Homo sapiens: one gene and its partners. The protein of the gene in region 2 purifies or fractionates together with the protein of the main gene of each other region. This does not show direct contact. Each region holds a gene or a part of one and is shown on either strand. Other genes may lie near its edges. The genes, in order: FAM83G, GRPEL2, CDV3, LYRM7 and NDUFAF5.

The links.
Region 1: the proteins of GRPEL2 (region 2) and FAM83G purify together in Homo sapiens (co-immunoprecipitation; one large-scale study listed by IntAct). This does not show direct contact.
Region 3: the proteins of GRPEL2 (region 2) and CDV3 fractionate together in Homo sapiens (co-fractionation; one large-scale study listed by BioGRID). This does not show direct contact.
Region 4: the proteins of GRPEL2 (region 2) and LYRM7 purify together in Homo sapiens (affinity purification with mass spectrometry, with the first as the bait; one large-scale study listed by BioGRID). This does not show direct contact.
Region 5: the proteins of GRPEL2 (region 2) and NDUFAF5 purify together in Homo sapiens (affinity purification with mass spectrometry; 3 studies listed by BioGRID and IntAct, with this or other methods). This does not show direct contact.

What each region holds. Positions count from the first base shown.
Region 1 is NC_000017.11:18,998,265-19,001,764, forward strand, and holds part of FAM83G (protein FAM83G), read right to left. Parts: intron 1-3,500. UniProt on the Homo sapiens protein: Substrate for type I BMP receptor kinase involved in regulation of some target genes of the BMP signaling pathway. Also regulates the expression of several non-BMP target genes, suggesting a role in other signaling pathways.
Region 2 is NC_000005.10:149,351,249-149,355,748, reverse strand, and holds the end of GRPEL2 (grpE protein homolog 2, mitochondrial precursor), read right to left. Parts: coding exon 4,467-4,500; 3' UTR 1,166-4,466; downstream 1-1,165. UniProt on the Homo sapiens protein: Essential component of the PAM complex, a complex required for the translocation of transit peptide-containing proteins from the inner membrane into the mitochondrial matrix in an ATP-dependent manner.
Region 3 is NC_000003.12:133,576,055-133,580,761, forward strand, and holds part of CDV3 (protein CDV3 homolog), read left to right. Parts: intron 1-4,707.
Region 4 is NC_000005.10:131,176,727-131,181,433, forward strand, and holds part of LYRM7 (complex III assembly factor LYRM7), read left to right. Parts: intron 1-3,368; coding exon 3,369-3,441; intron 3,442-4,707.
Region 5 is NC_000020.11:13,794,317-13,799,023, forward strand, and holds part of NDUFAF5 (arginine-hydroxylase NDUFAF5, mitochondrial), read left to right. Parts: intron 1-521; coding exon 522-625; intron 626-4,144; coding exon 4,145-4,184; intron 4,185-4,707. UniProt on the Homo sapiens protein: Arginine hydroxylase that mediates hydroxylation of 'Arg-111' of NDUFS7 and is involved in the assembly of mitochondrial NADH:ubiquinone oxidoreductase complex (complex I, MT-ND1) at early stages. May also have methyltransferase activity.

The DNA of each region.
Region 1 (3,500 bases), on a different chromosome or scaffold from region 2:
CCTGTCTATCACTGCGTCAAGACAAGGCCTGATCCCCATTTTACAAGTGAAGAAACTGAGGCCGAGGGTCCTGCAGCATGCAAGTGGCTAAGTGGGACCAGCACTCTCTGCTGGCCCAGGGGCCAGGACCCTCAGCTGCAGGGAGACCCTCTCCAGCCAGGGAGACCCAATCCAGGTCCAGCCACACCTAAGACCCTTGGTGTAACCTTATGAAGGCCCCAGCCGACTCTGAGCCTCAGTTTCCCCAGCTGTGATATGAACATGACGGCAGGCCCTGGCTCTTGGGGTTGTGGGAAGGAGGCCAGCCCAGTGGCTGAGCAGCTGCCTGTCCCACTGGAGTGCCCAGACGGGCAGGCACTCTCTCCTTAGAGCTCCTTCCTCGAAGGGCTGCTCCCGGCTCTCCTCGAAACTCTTAATTAAGGGAAGGGAGCCTTTGGAGCGCACAGGAGTTAACACCTGGGATTACTTTATCAGATGGTTCCCCACCCACTCTCTGACCTGTGGTGGGAGCCTGGGCCAGCTGTGCGCCCCACAAGGTGTCAACTGGGCCACCTGTGGCCTCTGGCAGTGTGGGGAGCTGTCCTGGCACTGCCCAGCTAAAGGATGCAATGAGTGGCCTTCCTCCTGGTCCCCAGGCCACAGAGCTCACCCTGTTCTTGTGAGTCCCCGTCCCAGCCCTCCTCCAGAGAGCCCAGTATTTAGCTGCCAAGGAGCCTCATGAAAACGCTTTTACTGCCAGGCACGGTGGCTCATGCCTGTAATCCCAGCACTTTGGGAGGCAGAGGCGGGTGGATCACAAGGTCAGGAGTTCGAGACCCACCTGACCAATACGGTGAAACCCCGTTTCTATTAAAAATACAAAAATTAGCTGGGCGTGGTGGCGCACACCTGTAATTCCAGCTACTCAGGAGGCTGAGGCAGGAGAATCGCTTGAACCCTGGAGGCGGAGGTTGCGGTGAGCAGAGATCGTGCCACTGCACTCCAGCCTGGGCGACAGAGCAAGACTTTGTCTCAAGAAGAAAAAAAAAAAAAGAAAATGCTTTTACTGTCCTGAGTCAACAGGATCCAGCAGTGAGGCTCTGGTGCTCCCATGCAGGGGTAGGGCTCAGAAGGAACAGTGCCACTGCTTCTCCAGGGAATGGGAGGGTGCTCAGGGCCTGCAGACTGGGGGTCTCGGCCCAGTCCCTCCAGATATCAGTTCTGTGACCTCAGGCCAGTTATTTGCCATCTCCGAGCCCCACCAAGCCTCAGTTTCCTCATCTGCACAATGGAGACAACACCTACTTTCCAGAGTTGTGGGGAGGATTACACAGCATGGTAAAGTGCCCGCTCAGCACCTGGCGCGGGGCTGGCATTTAGTAAGCACCTCATTAAGCTGCTTCTATTCTCTCAGAGCCAAGCTGTGGGCCAGGACTTCAGTGTGTGAAGGCGGGGGCCTGACAGAAAAAATGTGGGGTGAATCAGGCTTCGTGAAACCTGGGTTCGACTTTATTTCTCTGGGTCTGTTCCCAAGCCCTGGCCTGGCATGCAGAGATCAGTGTTCTGGCCCTGGCCACCGGCGCCTCACCTGCCCTCAGTTTCCTCAACTGTGAAATAAGGAAGGTGTGATCTGTCCCTGCCCTGGGGCCTCACCCTGGGGCTGGTGAGGGATCCTGCTAAGGCCCCCCTGCTGTGTCCTGTTGAGGGGGGCTCAGCATCTGCTGGAGGAGCAACCAGCTAGAACATCTACATCCAGCTCTGGCTGAGGAAGCCCCAACCCAGCCCAGCCTCACGCCTTCTCAGGCTGCAGCCAAGTGAGGCCGGGGCTCGCCCCTCCCAGGCGTGATCTTACAAGCCCGTCCTCTGGTATGTAGTTGGAACCCCACAGCAGGTTTTTTCCCAGATAAATCATGGCTCCTGGGGCTAGGGGAGGGGCAGGCAGTTGACCTTCCATCTTGGAGTAGGAGCCCACTAGGGCTGGAGGGAGGCTGGAGGGCACAAGCTGCTGAGAGTGAGACCTGGGACCCACCCGCCTCTTGTCCCAGGGGAGTCTAGGATCACAGGGCAGCAAGGTGTCAGGGCTGAAGGGGCCCCTAACAGTCTTCAATACCTGTTCCCATTTTACAGATGGGATGACCGGGGCTTGGAGAGGAGCTGGGGCTTGTTCCAGGTCCCACAGTCAGGCAGAGGCAGAGCACGGACTCTTGGCTCCTGGTCCTGCTGTCCACTAGTTCCATTCTAGTCATTTGGGAACAGGGGGGACTGACAGCAGTCCTGACAGGAACACAGCCGCTCCCCTAAGTGCTGCGTCACTTCCCTGCCCCAGGGTCTGCCTGTTGTGCTGACGACAGGTAAGGTGAGTGAGGAGGCGGAAGGCTGGGCTGTCCTGACTCAGCCCCAGCAGCCCCAGCCTAAAGCCCCCGGTGGGAAGGGGCCAGTGTGCGGCAAGGCGGCCCAGGCAGAGGGATCCCCATCCTAGGCAGGGGGCAGGCAGAGTTCTCCCTACACAATACCAGAGTGAGAAGGGGAGGTGGAAGCATGGGCACGAGAGGTGATTCATGGGGAGAGATAAGGCAGGGAGCGCTCCCAGGAAGCAGGCAGACAAAGCGCCCCGTCAGCATCCGTCAGTGTCCGGGCCCTGCCCCTGTGAGCCTGGGAAGCAGCTGGGGCAGGACAGCTGGAGGACTGCAGTGGCCTGGATGAGCTGCCCCTCCCAGCCCCTGCCTGTCACTCTGTCCTGCCAGGGCCAGGGCACAAGGGATAGCCTAGAGTTTGAGGGAAACACAGGCCTGGTCCCCACCCCTCTACCCGAGAACTAGCTAGGTGACCTTGGGCAGCGACTAACCAGTTTCTACATCTGAAAAATGAGACAGATAACACTAGCTGAGATTATAAAGCGCCTCGCACTCAGTCAACACTTGCTATTGTTATTATCCCTGCCCACACATGCCACACAAGCCTGGGCCACAGGTCCCAGGACAGATGTGGCAGGGAAGGAAGTGCCCAGGGCAGAAAGCAGGGGCTTGGCTCACCACAATGCTGTGGAGTCATGAACAAATCCCTGTCCTTCTCTGTGCCTCAGTATCCTTGTCTGTCAGATGAGGAGCTTAGTCTCTACTGCCTCTGAGGCCCCCACTGTGGGACCCTTGAGGACTCCCTGAGGTCTGAGAGTAGGGAGCAGTTTCAGCAGTGAGTGCCCCATCCTGAGGGCTGGAAAAGCAGAAAGCAGGGCCCACCTGTCCGAGGCTGGAGGACATCACTCACTATGGGGCCATGTAGACAGACTGGCACCCAAACTGGAGACCAGCTTCTTCCTGGCTATGTCACCTTAGACAGGTGACAGCAATCACCTTGTGGGAAGCAAAGGAAGGCAATGTCACCTTAGGTGACACTAATAACCTTGTGGGACTTTTGTGGGAAGCAAAGGAAGCTCCAGGTGGCTCATGGGACTGTACGGAGTGGCTGGGTCACAGCTGTAGCCAGAGACTCAGGGAGGAACCTGGGGTCAGCAGGTGAAGTCC
Region 2 (4,500 bases):
TTGGCACGATGGTAAGGTTCCAGGGGTGAGCATCCCAAGACAGGAAGTGGGGATACCAGTTTCTTAAGATCTGGGTCCAGAAAATGGCAGTGTCACTTCCACTGTATTCTATTGGTCAAGCAATCACAAAGCTCCAAGGAAACTCAAGAATGGACATGGGCCCTACTCAACAAAGGTGTCAAGAAATTCTGGAGCCATGTTTTAAAACTACAGTGAACTTGAGAGCATGGACATCTGAGTGGATAGGAATAAGAATATACTCACTGACTAGCACTGGGAATATGGGACACATGGTTTATGGAGCTACAGTGTACAGACAGTATTGGAAAGATAATGAAAACGCAAGACCAAATCCCAGGGAAGGCTGGCCCAACAGAGGGCCATTCAGCCAGGAGTCTAGGTATATGGAAGCTAGCTGAGAAGCAGAGGTAAAGACAAGGCCAGGCAGTCACAAGGTGGGAAGGACATGGGGAAGCTGAAGGTCAGAACAAGGCCAAGTGTCTGTAATCTGGTTAGGAGAATAGTCAGCAGTAGTCAAAGGAAATAAGACACCTAGAACCAAAAGGCGAACCCAAGAAAACAAGTCAATGCCAGAAAAGAAGGCAGAAATAGGGCTGGGAACAGTGGCTCAGGCCTGTGAGCCCAGCACTTTGGGAAGCCGAGGCAGGTGGATCGCCTGAAGTCAGGAGTTCAAGACCAGCCTGGCCAACGTGGTGAAACTGTCTCTACTCAAAATACAAAAAATTAGGCGTGGTGGCAGGTGCCTGTAATCCCAGCTACTCGGGAGGCTGAGGCAGGAGAATTGCTTGAACCTGGGAGGCGGAGGTTGCGCTGAGCTGAGATCGCGCCATTGCACTCTAGCCTGGGCAACAAGAGCAAAACTCCATCTCAAAAAAAAAAAAAAAAAAAAAAGGCAGAAATAGGAATCCAGATCTAAGAAATATGTAGCAATCAGAAAGAGGCAAGTCAAGGAGGAATAAAACAGACAAGACTTCAACACGGAGGCAGGGTGGGGAAAGCCCACAGTGCATCCACTTGGCTATGCTGCTATGAGATCTCAAGGTACCTCTCCAGAGCATCAACAAGGCAGGTCAGCAGTCATGAAGTGACCATAATGTTCCATATACAATACGAATAGGCAGACAAAGACTCTAAACACCAGAGCTGCAGTTATTTCAATTCAGGTTTTATTAAAGTTGTTTCTGAATATTTTTTCTCAGTGATCCTTGTTCTGATGAATATTACATTTCATCCTTAGTTTTGCTCATTTGATTTTGCTTTAGTGTTTAAAGAACTTTTATTTATCAAATCCTTTGCCATGAATGAGAGCACCAAATAACATATCAATACCCAACTGCCTGATTCCTTTACAGCAGTAAGAAAAGTCAGTAAAACATTTGTACAGTCCAAGTACTACAACACCAAGATCCCCTCTTCAAGTGAGAGTGAGCCAAAGCTTCCTTAGTATCATCTCAAGTCAATGTCTTTTCACTATACCATTAAGATGAAAATAACTAAGAGCACTGACACAATTTTCTTGCTCTTTCCATCTAAAAATGTGGGTTTCCTGTGGTGTGGCTAATTTTAAAAACCAGAAAATGGAAGGAAAATAAGTCAGTGAATGATTAGCTTACAAGTTTTTTCTACTCATCATTAACCAGTCTTCCCTTTTCCCTAGACTTTAGACAGCCATAAAAAGGCAGGAAAAACAATGTGCATAATAAAAAAATAAAAATAAATATCTGAGCACCTACTGTAGTAGGCATTTAACACATTTCACTTAATCCTCACAACGCTGTGAAAGAATTATTATAATCATTTTACGAATAAAGAAACAGGCTCAGAAGGGTGAAATCACTGGTGCCTAAAGTCCTGCAGGTGACTGAGCTGAGATTTAAGTTCAAGCCTATGCTCTAATATGCTGCTTTGGCTCCCCAAAGCCCTTCAGCTTGAGATTCTTACTACTATAGCTTCATCTTCTAATTCTAAATTTACACTTTTAAGTCTGCAAAACTACTGAATAACAAAAGAACCTAAAATTATTCTGAATTTACTTGCCAAAACGGGAGGTGTAATAGACCATTAGAAAATTCTTCTAGCCTGGACAATATAGTGAGACCCCGCCTGTAAAAAACAACCAACCAACCAAAAAAAAAAAACCAAAAACCAAAAACCAAAAACCAAAAAACAAAACTAGCCAGTCATGGTGGTGCACTTGCCTGTGGTCCTGGCTACTTGGTAGGCTGAGGTGGGAGGATCACTTGAGCTCATTAGGTAGAGACATCTCTTTAGGTAATCATAACATTCCATACCTAAAATTATTGTTAATTGTAATTAATGTTAATTCTAACTGGTAATGATAGCTAGCAATAAAAAAACACACAGAGAGTAATTACAATCAGCTCATTTTCTTATTGTCACCATCTGTCAAATCTCACAGAATGGAAGGCAAAAAAAGACAACTTCCTATTGTGAACCTTGATTGTTCATTAAATTTACAATATATACTTAGTGGAATGCCAAAAGATGTTCTGGTTTTACAAGCTTAACCACCAGTCTTTTGATTGCATTTTAAAAGTGCATATTTACTTGTTTTTTAAGGGTCTAAATCTGATGAAGATGGTAAGGCCCACAAGGAGATGGCTTTATTGATAAGTTTGTGTGCTGTCTTAGAATTATCTATAATGTATAAGAGGTTAACTTTCCACCACTCCACTGAATGTCATAGAGTTCCAGTGGAAAATGAATTTTATTTTATTTTATAACTTCAACCTAAACCTATATAATCTAGACATCCAACAACATCTGATTGTCTGCTGGAGACTTCATTGCATGCCCATTAATCTTAAATGGAGACTTAATTGCATGCCCATTAATCTTAAATGATTGACATTAATATCTAGTTGTTCTTCATTCATACTCTCACTGGAATTTAGTCAATAGTTTAGAGATTATTTTCCTTGTGTCCAGTCCTAAAAAGACTAGATTTTCATACTTCAGAAGCAGAAAGGGTGAGATTTGATCATTAAGGCCTCTTCCAACATTAAAATATCCATAATTGACTGCCTTCCTAAAATCTGACTGATGTATCATTCATTAAGTCGTTTATTGGACAAATCTTTTACAGAACACCAGCTATAAGACTGAAAAAAAACCACATAGGCCCATTAATTCTAGAGGTTAATATATAAAAGGTGAGCTCAATGTTTACACAGATGTGACTTAACAGATACAAAGAATAGGAAATAGAGCTTGTCAATATAACAGAGGTAGTGATTTGTGAGTACCAACTTAAAAAAAAAAACAACAAAAAAACTTTGCGGGCGCAGTGGTGAACGCCTGTAGTCCTAGCTACTTGGCAGGCTGAGGCAGGATTGCTTGGGCCCAGGAGTTGGAGGTCAGCCTGGGCAACACAGGAAAAAAAAAAAAAATTGCCAAGAGGAGAGAATACTTATGTTAAGTGTTCTTATCGCAAAAAGTAACATAAATAGAGCCAGAGGAAACTTAAAAAAAAATTCAGCATTAACTATTAATAAATGAAATGAGAAATCATGGGAACCTAACACTTTTGTCCTGATCACCACCTCCCATCATTTAATAAAGGATTATAAGGTAAAATTGACAAAAGGGCAGAGGAGTAAAGGCTGGTGGAATAAGTTGTAGGTAAATTACCCAAATAGAGCCATCTGGGTCATTAGCTGTTAGTGTTGCCTCAGTTTGCCTGAAATGATTATATGACAAGGAGGCTGAAAATAATTTGAAGAGCAAAGACAGCACAAGGCTTTTTGGCCATTCTTGCTTGAAAGGGTCCTGGGTATCTCAAATTTCGATGCTCCTTGCCTTCCAAGTCTCATCTAGACCTTTAGCCCCTGCAAATGGGGATGAGAAAGGGGTGGGTATGGGACAATGATGTGAGCATAAAGCCTATCTAGTTGGGATTACAAGAACAAAAGATGGCTAAAAGGAAAAAAACAAAACAAAAGGTAAAGTCCTGAAAATCTATGTGTATAAAAATCAATCCAAATGATCTAAATTTATACGACCACGAAGCTTTATCCTCTAAGTACCCAAATGTTGAACCAATCCCTACCATCTCCTTTTTCCACAAAATACAAGATACTACACAATTCCTGTTATAGAGACCGCTAGGAAGAAACATGTAGTTGAAAACCCATAGTTAAAAGGATTTTGGATTCAAATTTATCACAGTACCAATTTTCCTAAACATGTTTTGATAAAGGCCATTGGAACACCTGTCACACTGTTCAAATGCCCAATGGTAAGACTTCTGATGAGACCAAACAGGTCACATTAAATCAATAGAATATCTTAGAAATAAAGCCAATATGACTAAATCCAAAACATATCACATGAAGTACCTCATGTACAATACAAACCTAGTTTAATAAATAAAAGAAACATAGGTGACTGCGCTCTGGGAGAACATCCAGTTCCTGATGGCCTCTTCACAGTCTTCTCTGAGACTCCACTGCCACTTCC
Region 3 (4,707 bases), on a different chromosome or scaffold from region 2:
TTGACTTCTCTGGATGTTAGTATCTATAGCTTTAGATAACTTACTCAAAAAGCAGGGTTAATATTATTGACATTTGTTGAACACCTACCACAGCTAGGCATTAATGTCCTACTGTGAAAACATCATTTTGTGAGCTTAACCAAAGTGAAACCCCCAGATTGATAATGGGAAACTTTCAGGAACGATGGCTTCTCCACTCTTGAGATTTCTTTGTAGTGGTGTTGAGTAGAAGTGATTAGACTTGAGTTTGATTCCCAACCACTTGTTGGCTTCCTTAATGTGTCTTTCTCTTTTCTGTCTCCTGGGGCTTGACCTGTAAATAATGGGGAGGAGGGAATGTGAGGTTCTTACCATTTGGTGTTGTGGAACTGCCTGTGTGTGTGGCTCCGGTTCTGTTGTAAAGTTTGGCTCTTCTTAAGTCTTTTCTTTCCTAAGTGACTGCAGGTTCTTGAAAACGTGAGTGACTGGAAGAATAGTGTTTGGCCATGTTGAACTTGGCAAAATAGCACTTTTCTGAAGATAAAATTTTGGTTTCAAGTTCACTGAGGATTAGAAATTGATTTTGTTAAACTATGGAGATTATTTAAACAGAACCTGTGTTTTTCTGTTACTGACTATAAATTACATGTTCATCTTCAGGGTTATTTTGATCTTGATCTATTTTGGTTACTTTTGAGATAGTGAAAAGTGTCTTAAATAACTTACATACTTCACCCTTGCCAGGGATATAAGTAAGTATCAGCTAGTACAAGCATTTAAGTTCTGTTCAACCTGAAGGTAGACTAGCTTTTTTTTTTTTTTTTTTTTTTTGAGACGAAGTTTCCCTCTTGTTGCCCAGGCTGGAGTGCAGTGGCAAAATCTCGGCTCACTGCAACCTCCGCCTTCTGGTTTCAAGCGATTCTTCTGCCTCAGCCTCCCGAGTAGCTGGGATTACAGGCGCCCGCCACCACACCTGGCTAATTCTTGTATTTTTAGTAGAGACGGAGTTTCATCATGTTGGTCAGGCTGGTTTTGAACTCCTGACCTCGTGATCCGCCCGCCTCAGCCTCCCAAAGTGCTGGGATTACAGGTGTGAGCCACAGCACCCGGCCTAGACTAGCTTTTATATTGTTTTTTTTGTTTTCTTAGCATCTAGTCATTGGCCCTAAGTGGCCATCCTAGTAGAGGTATTCCACTAACCTGCAACACTGAGAAACACTCCTTCCCATATGTTCTTCACTCAGATCCACCAGTCTCTGCTACATGTGCTTTATCTTTTTCTATTTCTCGGTATACTGAGAGCTGCAGATGTCACATTCAGTCTTTTTTTCTTTTTTTTTTTTTGAGACAGAGTTTCGCTCTTGTTGCACAGGCTGGAGTGCAATGGTGCGATCTCAGCTCACCGCAACCTCAGCCTCCCGGGTTCAAGCGATTCTCCTGCCTCAGCCTTCCGAGTAGCTGGGATTACAGGCATGTGTCACCACGCCTGGCTAATTTTGTGTTTTTAGTAGAGACGGGGTTTCTCCATGTTGTTCAGGCTGGTCTCAAACTCCCGACCTCGGGTGATCCACCCACCTCGGCCTTCCAAAGTGCTGGGATCACAGGCATGAGCCTCTGAGCCCAGCCAGATGTCACATACAATCTTAAAGTTCTTGACCCTGGTCCTTATAGTAGTTAGCATATTAGTTCTTTACCTGTACATTTGAAAGGGGAAATTTTTCATTAGCAGCAAACGTATTATATATTAAGATCCTATTTCACATTTACCAACCAGCTCAAGATTTAAGTACCAAGGTACTTAATGTGCCCAGTTTTGTGTCTGAATTAACAGATCTTATTCAAGGTCATGCTGTTATAGACAGATTCTTGAGAGGGAAGCCATTGAGGTGGTTATAAAGGAGGCTGTCATTTGAGTTAGATCCTTGGTTGTTTGTAGGCCCTGTAGGCCTCTTTCATCTCTATTTTTTCATTTTTTTGAGACAGTCTCACTTTGTCACCCAGGTTGGAATGCAGTGGCATGATCATAGCTCATTGTAGTCTTGAACTCCTGGGCTCAAGTGATCCTCCCACCTCAGCCTCCCGAGTAGCTGGGACTACAGGTGTGAGTTGCCACCCCTGACTAATCTTACTTTTTTTTTCTGTAGATGAGGTCTATTTTACCTAGGCTGGTCTCAAAACTCCTGGCCGCAAGTGATCTCAAAGCAAAGGAATCACACGCATGAGCTGCTAGGCCCAGCCACTTCCATCTTTAAAGTGGATTTTTGGGAGAATGTTAGAAAGATTTAATTCTTGAAGGTATACACTGTTGAGCATTTGTCACGTTTCAGTAAATAATTGAGTTCTTGGAGCCCAGTGGTTTTCTAGAAACTTTGGTGAGAAATCTAGACTTAAACCTTTTAGGTAGAGCTGGTTACATTATCCAAGGTGGATTTATTCTAGCAAATACTTATGTGACTACTCTGCTAGACACTGAGGTTCTCTGGTTGTAGAAATAAGTCATGCTGTAATAGACAACAGTAGATAATTTCAAAGAGATGTGCATGGTGCTCTGGGGCAGAGGAGAGACATTTCATCATCCATGAAGGGGTCAGGAAAGATTCTTTGGATGAGGTGCAGTGCCATTTTAAGCCTCCAGGCCAGGCATAGCTGATCAGGCCATGTGTATCTCCCCATTTTACTGTTGCAGCAATGCTAGGTATAATAGGGACAAACCTGTGGAGATGCCCGGTATTCCAGCAGCTCAATCCAGTCTGATTTTTGTTTTAGCTGCTTCCCCCTAGTGTTGGGGAAGGGGAGTTAGGATGTATAAATTCTCATGTCTCTTGAGGTAAAGAGATAAGGCTGTTCTATTCTTTATAAATATACTGCTGCAGGATGTGTGATCCTATCAGCCTTACTAAAGAAAATGCATTTCTCAAATCTTAGAGAATATTTTTGCATCATACCTTAGAGCTATAAAGGGGATAAAATGAATTAAAAGGTAATGTGAAATAATAGAGCCTCTAGAATCCCACACTATTTTGGCTCTGCTACTTTGTAGCCCTGGGGAAGGTACTTATGTTTCCTCATACATACATACAGTGGGTCTCTTGGCTGCCTTAGTGTTACTGTGAGGTTTAACTTTGTACAGTGGGGTGGAATGCTGCCTGCTGTAGTAGATATTCAGTAAGTCTCCCTTTTGTAGCATCATTATTCTCCTCACCTTACCAGTAGTGCCTTACAGACTTACACATATTTAAGACCGTATATGTGGAATTGTGATGAATTTACAGCAGTATTGTAGTGTTTGTTTATAAAATTTAGCTGATGGGAAGCTATATATTATATTTGGGTCAAACACTGAATTTCAGCCTGTCTCCCATGGAAATAACCGTTTGGAACGTGTTTCTTGTTCTGCTATGACATTTGGAGAGTTGATACTTTCTGAAATATGTAAAGATGAAAAAGTAATAAAATATGTAAATCATTTCTACCCTGCTAACTGGCATTTAGGCAAGCCTCTAAGCATCTCTGGGCTTCAATTCCTTCAATTGTTGGATGAAGAGTGTTTTTGGTTTGTTCGTTCTTTTTTTTTTTTGATAGAGTTTTTGCTTTTGTTACCCAGGCTGGGGTGCAATGGCGCAATCTCCGCTCACTGCAACCTCCACCTCCCAAGTTCAAGCGATTCTCCTGCCTCAGCCTCCCAAGTAGCTGGGATTAGAGGCATGTGCCACCACGCCTAGCTAATTTTTGTATTTTTAGTAGAGACAGTGTTTGACCATGTTGGTCAGGGTGGTCTCGAACTCCTGACCTCCAGTGATCTGCCCGCCTCTGCCTCCCAAGATGCTGGGATTACAGGCATGAGCCACTGCGCCCGGCTGATAAAGAGTCTTGACTAGACAATTTCCACATGTTTAGTTTAGCTAGTATTTCAGAATCTTAACCCAAAATACTTATTTATTTTTATTATTATTATACTTTAAGTTCTAGGGTACATGTACACAACGTGCAGGTTTGTTACATAGGTATATATGTGCCATGGTGGTTTGCTGCACCCATCAACTTGTCATTTACATTAGGTATTTCTCCTAACGCTATCCCTCCCCCAGTCCCCCACCCCCCAACAGGCCCTGGTGTGTGATGTTCCCCTCCCTGTGTCCATTTGTTCTCATTGTTCAACTCCCACTTGTGAGTGAGAACATGCAGTGTTTGGTTTTCTGTCCTTGTGATATTTTGCTGAGAATGATGGTTTCCAGCTTTATCCATGTCCCTGCAAAGGACATGAGCTCATCCATTTTTATGGCTGCATAGTATTCCTTGGGGTATATGTGCAACGTTTTCTTTATCCAGTCTATTATTAATGTACATTTGGAAAAACCCAAAATATTTATTTAAAAAAATTTCTTTTGGCCGGGCACAGTGGCTCACGCCTGTAATCTCAGTACTCTGGGAGGCTGAGGCAGGTGGATTACTTGAGGTCAGGAGTTCGAGACCAGCCTGGCCAACATGGTGAAACCCCGTCTCTACTAAATACAAAAAATTAGCTGGGCATGATGGCGCATGCCTGTAATCCCAGTTACTTGGTGGGCTGAGATAGAAGAATTGCTTGAACCCGGGAGGCAGAGGTTGCAGTGAGCCAAGATCAGGCCATTGCACTCCAGTCTGGGCAACAGGAGTGAAACTCCATCTCAAAAAAAAAAAATAGAGACAGAGTCTCACTGTGTTGCTATATTGCTCAAGCTGGTTTTG
Region 4 (4,707 bases), about 18 Mb from region 2:
CCTCCTCCCTTTTGGCGTCTCCCTTTTGGCGTTCTATCCACAAAGGCGTACCCTTTGCTTAGCACCTACTTATAAGTCAAAATATGCAGTATTTGATTTTCTGTTTCTGAGTTATTTCATTTAGGATAATGGTCTCCAGCAGCTGCTGCAAAGGACATGATTTCATTCTTTTTTAGTATTCTATGATGTATATATACACCACATTTTCTCATTTGTGTCCTATAAAGCAAACAGCTGCCCTCACAGTTCTACTAGCACCTAGTACTTTAACATCTTTGATGTTATTATTGCTATAAAAATTACCCACAGCTGAGCCCTTTAAGTACATTATATGATTGTCTTTTTTCCCATTTCTTCATCTTTAAATTAATAACTGCCTTTTAAAAATTATTACTTTTTAAAAATATCCTTTAATAGATATCCTAGATATCTGTTCCCAAATTCTAGGCAAAACCAGTCTACCAGTTTCATTTTTCCTTGCAATAACTTTCCTGGAGCAATTCAGTCTTTTGCTATAGTCCTGCCTAGTTGCTTTCTAGTCTGGCTGCACAAATGTTGACTAGCATTTGTCCTTCCCCATGGTCTTTGCCTCTCCCATGTTAGACTACCTGTCTCCTGGGTTCCCATGTCTTTTCCTTTTGTGATTCATTTCCTTATTTTGGTGGAGGATATTCTTCTGTAGCTTTCCAATAAAGTGTGTATGACAGATAAGAGACTTTGCATTTCTGAAAATATGTATTTGCCCTTGTCTTTGAGTGATAGTTTGAGTATCTATGGTGTTCTAAAGCAGACATTTTTTCAAAACTTGAATATGTTATTCCATTGTCTTCTTACAGTGGTGCTATTTAGAAATCAGGTACCATTCTGATTTTTTCCATCCTTTACATGTGAAATGTTGATTCTCTGAGATTGTTCTCATTATCAGCATTGCACTGAACTTAACATCATGCTGTGCTGTGTTATGAGTTTTATGTTGGGCACTTGGTGGAACCCTTTCTATCTTGTAATTCGTGTGCCTTACTTGGTGAAATTTTTTTTCTTCCCTTTTACCCAAATATTAAGTGAAAATTTTAAAATTTCTTCCCTCCCTTTTCTCTTTTCTCTCTTGTTGGCCCTTCTGCTAATCTAGCTGTTGGGCCTTCTCCCTTAATTTTCTTATCTTTCCTCTCCTCAATTTCTGTTTCTGAACTTTTATTCTACATTCTGGGCAATTTTTCTCAACTTAATCCTTACTTTCACCTGTTTGATAGCCAAGAGCTTTTGGGAGTTTTTGGAATGTTCCTTTTTAAATTTACTGTAGCTTTTCATTGATGTTATTCCATCTCTGCGATAACATGTTTCTGAGGAAGTTTTTTATGGCAGCTTGGTTTTTATTTTTAAATTTTTTTGCTCTGTTTCTTATTTCTGTTTTCATGTCTGCCTTTGATGTTATAGGTTTTCTAATATACGTAAAACACTTAAAATGGTGTCTAGCACACAGTATGCTTAGTAAATGTTAGACAGTATTTGCAGAACAGACTGGAGGACAGGAGGGTGTGGTGGCAAAGTGACAAACCTTTGTAAGTAGTCTAAGAGATGGGGAGTGCCTGAACATAAGTGATTTTGTTGAGAGAGGATAAAAGAAAGATTACAGAGACATTTCTAAAGTTTCCACGACAAGAGTAAGGTATAATAAAAGGATGACCTACTGATTTCTGGCTTCAGAAACTTGGTGGCCTCCAATAAGTAAAATAGAGAAGAGTGGAGGAAGAGCAATATTGAGAGAACAATATTGAGTACCTTTTTGGACTTGAGAAGTGTGAAGTGACCTCAGCATATCACTAAAGCCTCTTCACAATCTGTCTTTTACCAAAATGCCAGGCTCTTTTCTCTCTTTTTATTTTTTTCAATACAGACTCAGAATATTCATAAGTCTCAACATTTCACTTATCTTTTATGAAATAGCAATTAAAAGGGCCAGACGTAGTGGCTCACACCTGTAATCCCAGCACTTTGGGAGGCCAAGTCAGCGGACCACGAGGTCAGGAGTTTGAAACCAGCCCAGCCAACATGGTGAAACCCCGTGTCTACTAAAGATAACAAAAAATTAGCTGGGCGTGGTGGCACACGCCTGTAATCTCAGCTACTTGGGAGGCTGAGGCAGGAGAATCGCTTGAACTCGGGAGGTGGAGGTTGCAGTGAGCCGAGATTGTGTCATTGCACTCCAGCCTGGGTGACAAGGTGAGACTCCGTCTCAAAAAAAAAAAAAAAAAAAAAAAGGGAATAGCAATTAAATTTGTCTAAATTGTTTAAAACATCTTCCTTCTGTGGCCTCTTTTAAGATGCAATAAATTCATAATTTTGCATATGTGTGTGTATGATATTGAGCAGATTAAAACTTCAATAGGTTAAGAAAAATGAGAACAGATACATACCAGACTGGTAAAGTAGCAGACTGGTTTTTAGCATGAGGATTATTAACTTTTTAACCATCCTTATATTGTTTTATTTATTTCAAAGAACTTTGTATTATTTTTGTAAATAAGGCTAAAAATGTTTTTAATGTAGAGATAAATAATCAAAGGAAAGTTATTTTGGCAAGTCCTGGTTTTCACCAACTATTTTTAAAAATAGTCTATGAAACAAACAGAAAAGGAATACTGTTTAATCCTTATAATACGATTTGTGTGAAATGTGAAATGTTTTCCTTTTGAGGTCTGAATTCTGATTTTCTTTTTCTTTTTCTTTTCTTTTTTTTTTTTTTTTTCTTTTTTTTTTTTTGAGACAGGGTCTTGCTCTGTCACCCAGGCTGGAGTGTAGTAGTGCAGTCAGAGCTCATTGTAGCCTCAACTTCCTAGACTCAAGCAATCCTCCCACTTCAGCCGCCCAAGTAGCTAGGACCACAGGTGCACACCACCATGGCCTGACTAATTTTAAAAAAATATTTTGGCCGGGTGCAGTGGCTCACTCATGTAATCCTAGCACTTTGGGAGGCCAAGGCGGGTGGATCACCTGAGGTCAGGAGCTCAAGACCAGCCTGGACAACATGGTGAAACCTTGTCTCTACTAAAAATACAAAAATTAGCCAGGCTTGGTGGCAGGTGCCTGTAATCCCAGCTACTCGGGAGGCTGAGGCAGGAGAATTGCTTGAACCCAGGAGGCGGAGGTTGTGGTGAGCCAAGATCACACCACTGCACTCCAGCCTGGGTGACAGAGTGAGACTGCAAGTCAAAAAAAAATTTTTTTTTTGTAGAGATGGGGGTCTCACCATATCGCCCAGGGTCTCGAACTCCTGGGCTAAAGCGATCCTGCTACCTCAACTTCCCAAAGTGCTGGGATTACAGGCATGAGCCACTGTGCCCAACCTTGAATTCTGATTTTCTTAACAGGTTTTACAGCTCTTTAAAACACTGCACAGGACCAGACAACAAGTTTTTAAAAATGATGCCAGAGCATTAGAAGGTAAGTATGTTCTTTACCCCTTTGGAGCCAGTCTACTTTTTAGATAACTACTAATCTCTCTGAGAAACCCTGTGTGGTCAAGACCCATTTTAGGGAATGACCTTCACTACCTCTCTCTGATATCTTTTATAAAGATTAGCTTATATTACACTTATTTGAGAAATATCTACTTAAAGAAAAATTTTTAAAGATCAAGTCTTCATAAAGAGTTGGTCAAAAAAAAAGGCGAGGGACCAGAATTTCAGTGTTTATCATTGCTTGCCTTATATTCAAGCCATTGAACTTTCTGTTACATAATCAAATTTTCACAGTCTCTAGGACCAGATATTACCATGTTGTTAATGTCTTATATCAGTCTAAAAGAGCAGCTGTGAAAGAGAATCCATCCCAAATGATTCTAAATTCAGTATCTCCCTGTTTTAAGTAGTTTCTATCTTATCTGGAAGTCACAGGCTCTGAAACTTAGGTTCTGTGTTATTCATGTTCAGTTCCACTCCTCATACATTTATGAACCTCCTTAAGAGTGCACCTAGGTAAAGTGTCCCCACTGTTTCCAGGGATTTAAGTTTTTGTAACTCATCAAAAATAATTTCTGAACAAATAAGATATATGTATTGTATTATATGTACTTTACATGAATTCCTGATTTAATTCTTGTAACATTTCTGTAAGATAGTTGCTATTATAATTCCTATTTTTACAAATGAGAAAATTGACAAAATGTGAAAATATCTGTCCCACATCATACTGAGTAAAAGGTGGACCTGGGATTTAGTCTAAGCAGTCTGATTCAAAAGTCCAAACTCTAAACCACCTTACGTATTGAAATATATGCAACATAGGCTGGGCTCAGTGGCTCACTCCTGTAATCCCAGCACTTTGGGAGGCAGAGGCAGGCAAATTACTTGAGGTCAGGAGTTAGAGACCAGCCTGGCCAACATGGTGAAACCCCACCTCTACTAAAAATACAAAAATTAGCCGGGCATGGTGGCACACACCTGTAATCCCTTGAGGGAGGAGAATTGCTTGAACCCAGAGGCGGAGGTTGCAGTGAGCCGAGATCATGCCACTGCACTCCAGCCTGGGCGACAAAGCAAGACTCCATCTGAAAAAAAAAAAAAAAAAAAAAAAAAAAATATATATATATATACACACACACACACATATATATAACATATATGTTATATATATATTAACATATATATGTATATATAATATATACATATATATTATATATACATATATATGTTTATATATATATAACAT
Region 5 (4,707 bases), on a different chromosome or scaffold from region 2:
TTGTCCAGGCTGGAGTGCAGTGGTGCGATCTCAGCTCACTGCAACCTCCGCCTCCCGGGTTCAAGCGATACTCCTGCCTCAGCCTCCCGAGTAGCTGAGATTACAGGTGCGTGCCACCACGTCCAGCTAATTTTTGTATTTTTAGTAGAGACGTGGTTTCACCATGTTGGCCAGGCTGGTCTCGAACTCCTGACTTTCAGTGACTGCCCACCTTGGCATCCCAAAGTGCAGGGATTATAGGCGTGAGCCACCACGCCCAGCCAAACTAGCTTTCTGAGATTTGTTTTGGTGTGAGGTTGGTATCCTGTTTATGTTGTTTCAACTAGTTAGCCATTTTTTCTGGCTGATGTTAAGTCATTTAAGAAATGCTTTTTGGGTGCCTTCTCTGTGCCACCTTTGGGAAGGGGGGTAGAAACTGCCAAGTAAATATAACATTGACTTCAATTTAACAAACAGTGATTGTGTTAGTAATTGAGATTCTACATAAATGTGATTTTGATCTTTCGTTTTCTTAACATTAGAAAAATTCCTCAGAAACAGAAATACCTACTGTCAGCGTTTTAGCTGATGAAGAATTCCTTCCCTTCAAAGAAAATACATTTGACCTGGTGGTTAGCAGTTTAAGGTTGGTAATCCACTTTTTAAAAACCATATGTTATAAACAGATCATTCTTGCCATAAAGTTTTGCTATGAGGCCAGGAGCGGTGGCTCACGCCTGTAATGCTAGCACTTTGGGAGGCCGAGGCGAGTGAATCTCTTGAGGTCAGGAGTTTGAAACCAGCCTTGCCAACATGTTGAAACCCTGTCTTTACTAAAAATACAAAAAAGGTAGCTGGGCGTGGTGGCATGCATGAACTTCCTAAAGTTCATCTGTGATAGAAGGTTTTTCTCCCCAGTGCATCTTAATATTTTGGAATTGCTCTTGTTGGGAGCAGGAGTTTGAAAGAGCATATTGGCTCCTGTATTCAAATGTTAGAGCAATTCCAAAATAATAAGTTACATTGGGGAGAAAACCCTTCTATCACAGATGAGTTTAGCAAGTTGGGGGAAAAAAAAGTTGAGGCACTATATCATATTATCTCCACCAGAGAGCATAGAATATATTCTTTCAAACTCCTGCTCCCAACAATCATAACTCATTCTGGACAAATTCTGGACAAACTCATTCTGGACAAACTCAAACTAGGACAGCTAGTTTTCCTTTAGCCTTAATTCTTCTGGCCAGGTACAGTGGCTCTCACCAGCAATCCCAACACTTTGGGAGGCTGCAGTAACAGGACTGCTTGAACCCAGGAGTTCGAGACCAGCCTGGGCAACATAATGAAATGCCATCTCTACAAAAAATTAAAAAATTAGCTGGGCAAGGTGGCGCATGCCTGTAGTCCCAGCTACTTGGGAGGCTGAGGCAGGAGGATCACTTGAGCCTGGTAAGTTGAGGCTGCAGTGAGCCATGATCATGCCACTGCACTCTAGCGTGGGTGACAAAGCAAGACCCTGTCTCAAAATAATAATAATTCTGTACCAGAATGTAGTTCTCAAGATTACTCTTTTCCCTTTATGTTTTCTACTATCTTCCTCCACATATGTTACACAAACATGTAATGCAAGTATATATCAAATAGGTTATAGGATACAAGGCACTGAGCCAGATTTTTGGGTGAATACAAAAATGAATTAGGGATCCTGTCCTCAAATAACTCAGTCTAACAGAAAAAATATCTTTGTGGTATCTTCTTTCTCCTGTCTTATAGTCAAATAGATTTTCTTTCAGAAGTTCAGCAGGCTCTCCACGTCCAGTTCAACTCTTTCGATAGCTGTTTTTAGGGTGACCAGTCATCAAGGTGTGCCCAGGACTTTGCCACTTTTGGCCTGAAAGTCTTATGTTCTGGGAAAGCTGGTCACCCTTGATGTTTTCTTTCGTGAGTGTGTAATTCCTTCCCTGGTTTTTTAGATGTGCTGAACAAAGTTAGAAAACTACTCACATTCTGTCATGAAATGAAAAATATGCAGAGCCTTGGTCTATAAAGAACCCTGGGCAGGGAGTCAGAACCTGAGTTTTTATGTTAGCTCATCTGCTTGCTATTTGCAGGTGACTAATTCTGTTGCTTTCTGTTTTCCCATAAGTATGATAGAGTTTATAGTATGAGCTCCTTAGTTTTTAAAGTATCTAATACTTGTCGAAAAGCATTAGGAAAGATAAACATGAGCTTAACACAGTATGGTTTGAAATGGACATTCAGTTCTGTCCTGGAACTCAGCATAAGGGGAGGCAGTTATACCAGAAAAGTGTGACCGTACTCTAAGGAGACTGGGAATATGACTTTCGCTGTCACGCATGACTACACTCTAGGTGAGAGTAGGGTCAAAAGAAAATTCAAGGCCCGGGCACGGTGGCTCACGCCTATAATCCCAGCCCTTTGGGAGGCCGAGGCAGGCAGATCACTTGAGGCCAGGAGTTCAAGACCAACCTGGGCTACGTGGTGAAACCCTGTCTTTACTAAAAATACAAAAATTAGCTGCATGTCATGGCGCATGCCTGTAATTCCAGCTGCTCGAGAGGCTGAGGCATGAGAATTACTTGAACCTGGGAGGCAGAGGTTGCAGTGAGCCAAGATCGCGCCACTGCACTCCAGCCTGGGCAACAGCAAGACTCTGTCTCAAAAAAGGAAAAAATTTAAGAGATTAAGTTTCAGTGTATACAGCTCTGGTTTTTGTTTGTTTTTATCACCTTAAAAAATGGATGTACCACACACCTACTAGAATGGCCAAAATCCAGGACACTGACAACACTAAATGCGACAAGGATGTGGAGTTCATTATTGGTGGGAATGCGAAATGGTACAGGCACTTTGCAAGATAGGTTGGTTGTTTCCTACAAAACTAAACATACTCTTAGCGTACGATCCAGCGATTGCATGCTCCTTGGTGTTTACCCAAAGGAGATGAAAACTTACGTCCACGCAAAAACCTGCACACAAATGTTTATAGTAGCCTTATTCATAATTGCCAAAATTTGGAAGCAGCCAAGATGTCCTTCAGTAGGTGAATGGATAAACTTTGTTGTATCCAAACAACAGAATATTATTCAGCACTAAAAAGAAACTGTCAAGCCATTAAAATATTTGGAGGAAACTTAAATGCGTATTACTGAATGACAGAAGCTAATCTGAAAAGGCTACATAGTGTGTAATTCCAACTGTGACAATCTGGAAAAAGCAAACTCTGGAGACAGTGAAAAAGATTGGTGATTGCCAGGGGTTGTGTAGGGGAAGGATGAATAGGTGGAGCACAGAGGATTTTTAGGGCAGTAAAGCTACTCTATGATACTATTATAATATTGGATATATGACATTACACGTTTATCCAAACCCTTAGAATATACAACACCAAAAGTGAACCTTAATGTAAACTATGGACTTGGGGGATAATCACTTATCAGTATAGCTTCATCAGTTGTAACAAATATACACTCTGGAGATATTGATAATGGGGGAGGCTGTGCATGTGTGGGAATAGGAGTATGTAAAAAAATCTCTGGGTTTTCCTCTTAATTTTGCTGTAAACCTAAAACTGCTCCAAAAATAATTAAAAATAAAGTCTTAAAAATTGATTTTTTAAAAAATGGGATATTATTGGAAAACTCACAGATTCAAACTTTTGATGAGTTACACTGTTTGCCTTGAAAAAATTTAGATCTGCAGATAATTTTTTTCTAAGAAAGTCTGACTTAGAATAATACTATATTTCTGTAGCTTAATTGATTTAACTGATGAGCTTCTTTGAGCATTTTTACTACTTTTTGCAAATAAGGTCTCAGAATAGCACCGTTTAGATAAAATGCCTAAGTAGGAATGACTTTTACATAATTCAGTGATGAATAATTAGAAAATAATCATATCAGATTCTTTCAGTTACGCAAAGTGATATATTGACATGGGGAATTTTCTGGTGTGACACAAGGCAGGTTTTCCTCTAGGAATATTTATAATTTTAAAACCTGTATGAAAACGATCAGTGGATTTGGATATGCAGTTTTAAACTTCAAAATTAACACCTTTTTATGGGTTATCATTAACCTGGTGATAATTTTACTAATTAATTGTGCCAGTTAAGCTAAAACAAATCTGTATTCTCATATTTTAGTTTGCATTGGGTGAATGACCTTCCTAGAGCACTTGAGCAGGTAAGAAAACTTATGTTCATTCAACTATCTTGTGTTATTTTCTTTATTGTTAGAAATCTACAGATGTTTCTATTTTCACATACTATTTACTTGTAGGTCTGACAGTTGGGAAAGAAATCGGTGAAATCATCTGGTGCCATTTGGCATATTAGTAGTACATTGGGCAACTCTCCTTTCCCTGAGAATTTAAGAAATCTAATTGTAGAGATAAGTTTTAAATATTTATGAAAAGCTTAGGAACTGTGCAAAATAATATTGAAATCATAAGACATTCTCTATGTAGATTTCTTCTTACCCTTAGTTGCCCATAAACTTTTTGCAAGTAGGAACCTACTTATTTATATTTGTATTTTCTCCATGCCTTATACTCAGAGAGTGCTAGGTAAGTTTTTATCGATTGACACGTATCAATAGACAGGTGAGAGGCAGGTAAAAAGTATGTGTTCAAAGGAGAGAACAAGATCCCTGTGGCTTGACATGGCCTAGAAAAGCTTCAAGAGGAAAGTACTTGAGCAGGGCCTTA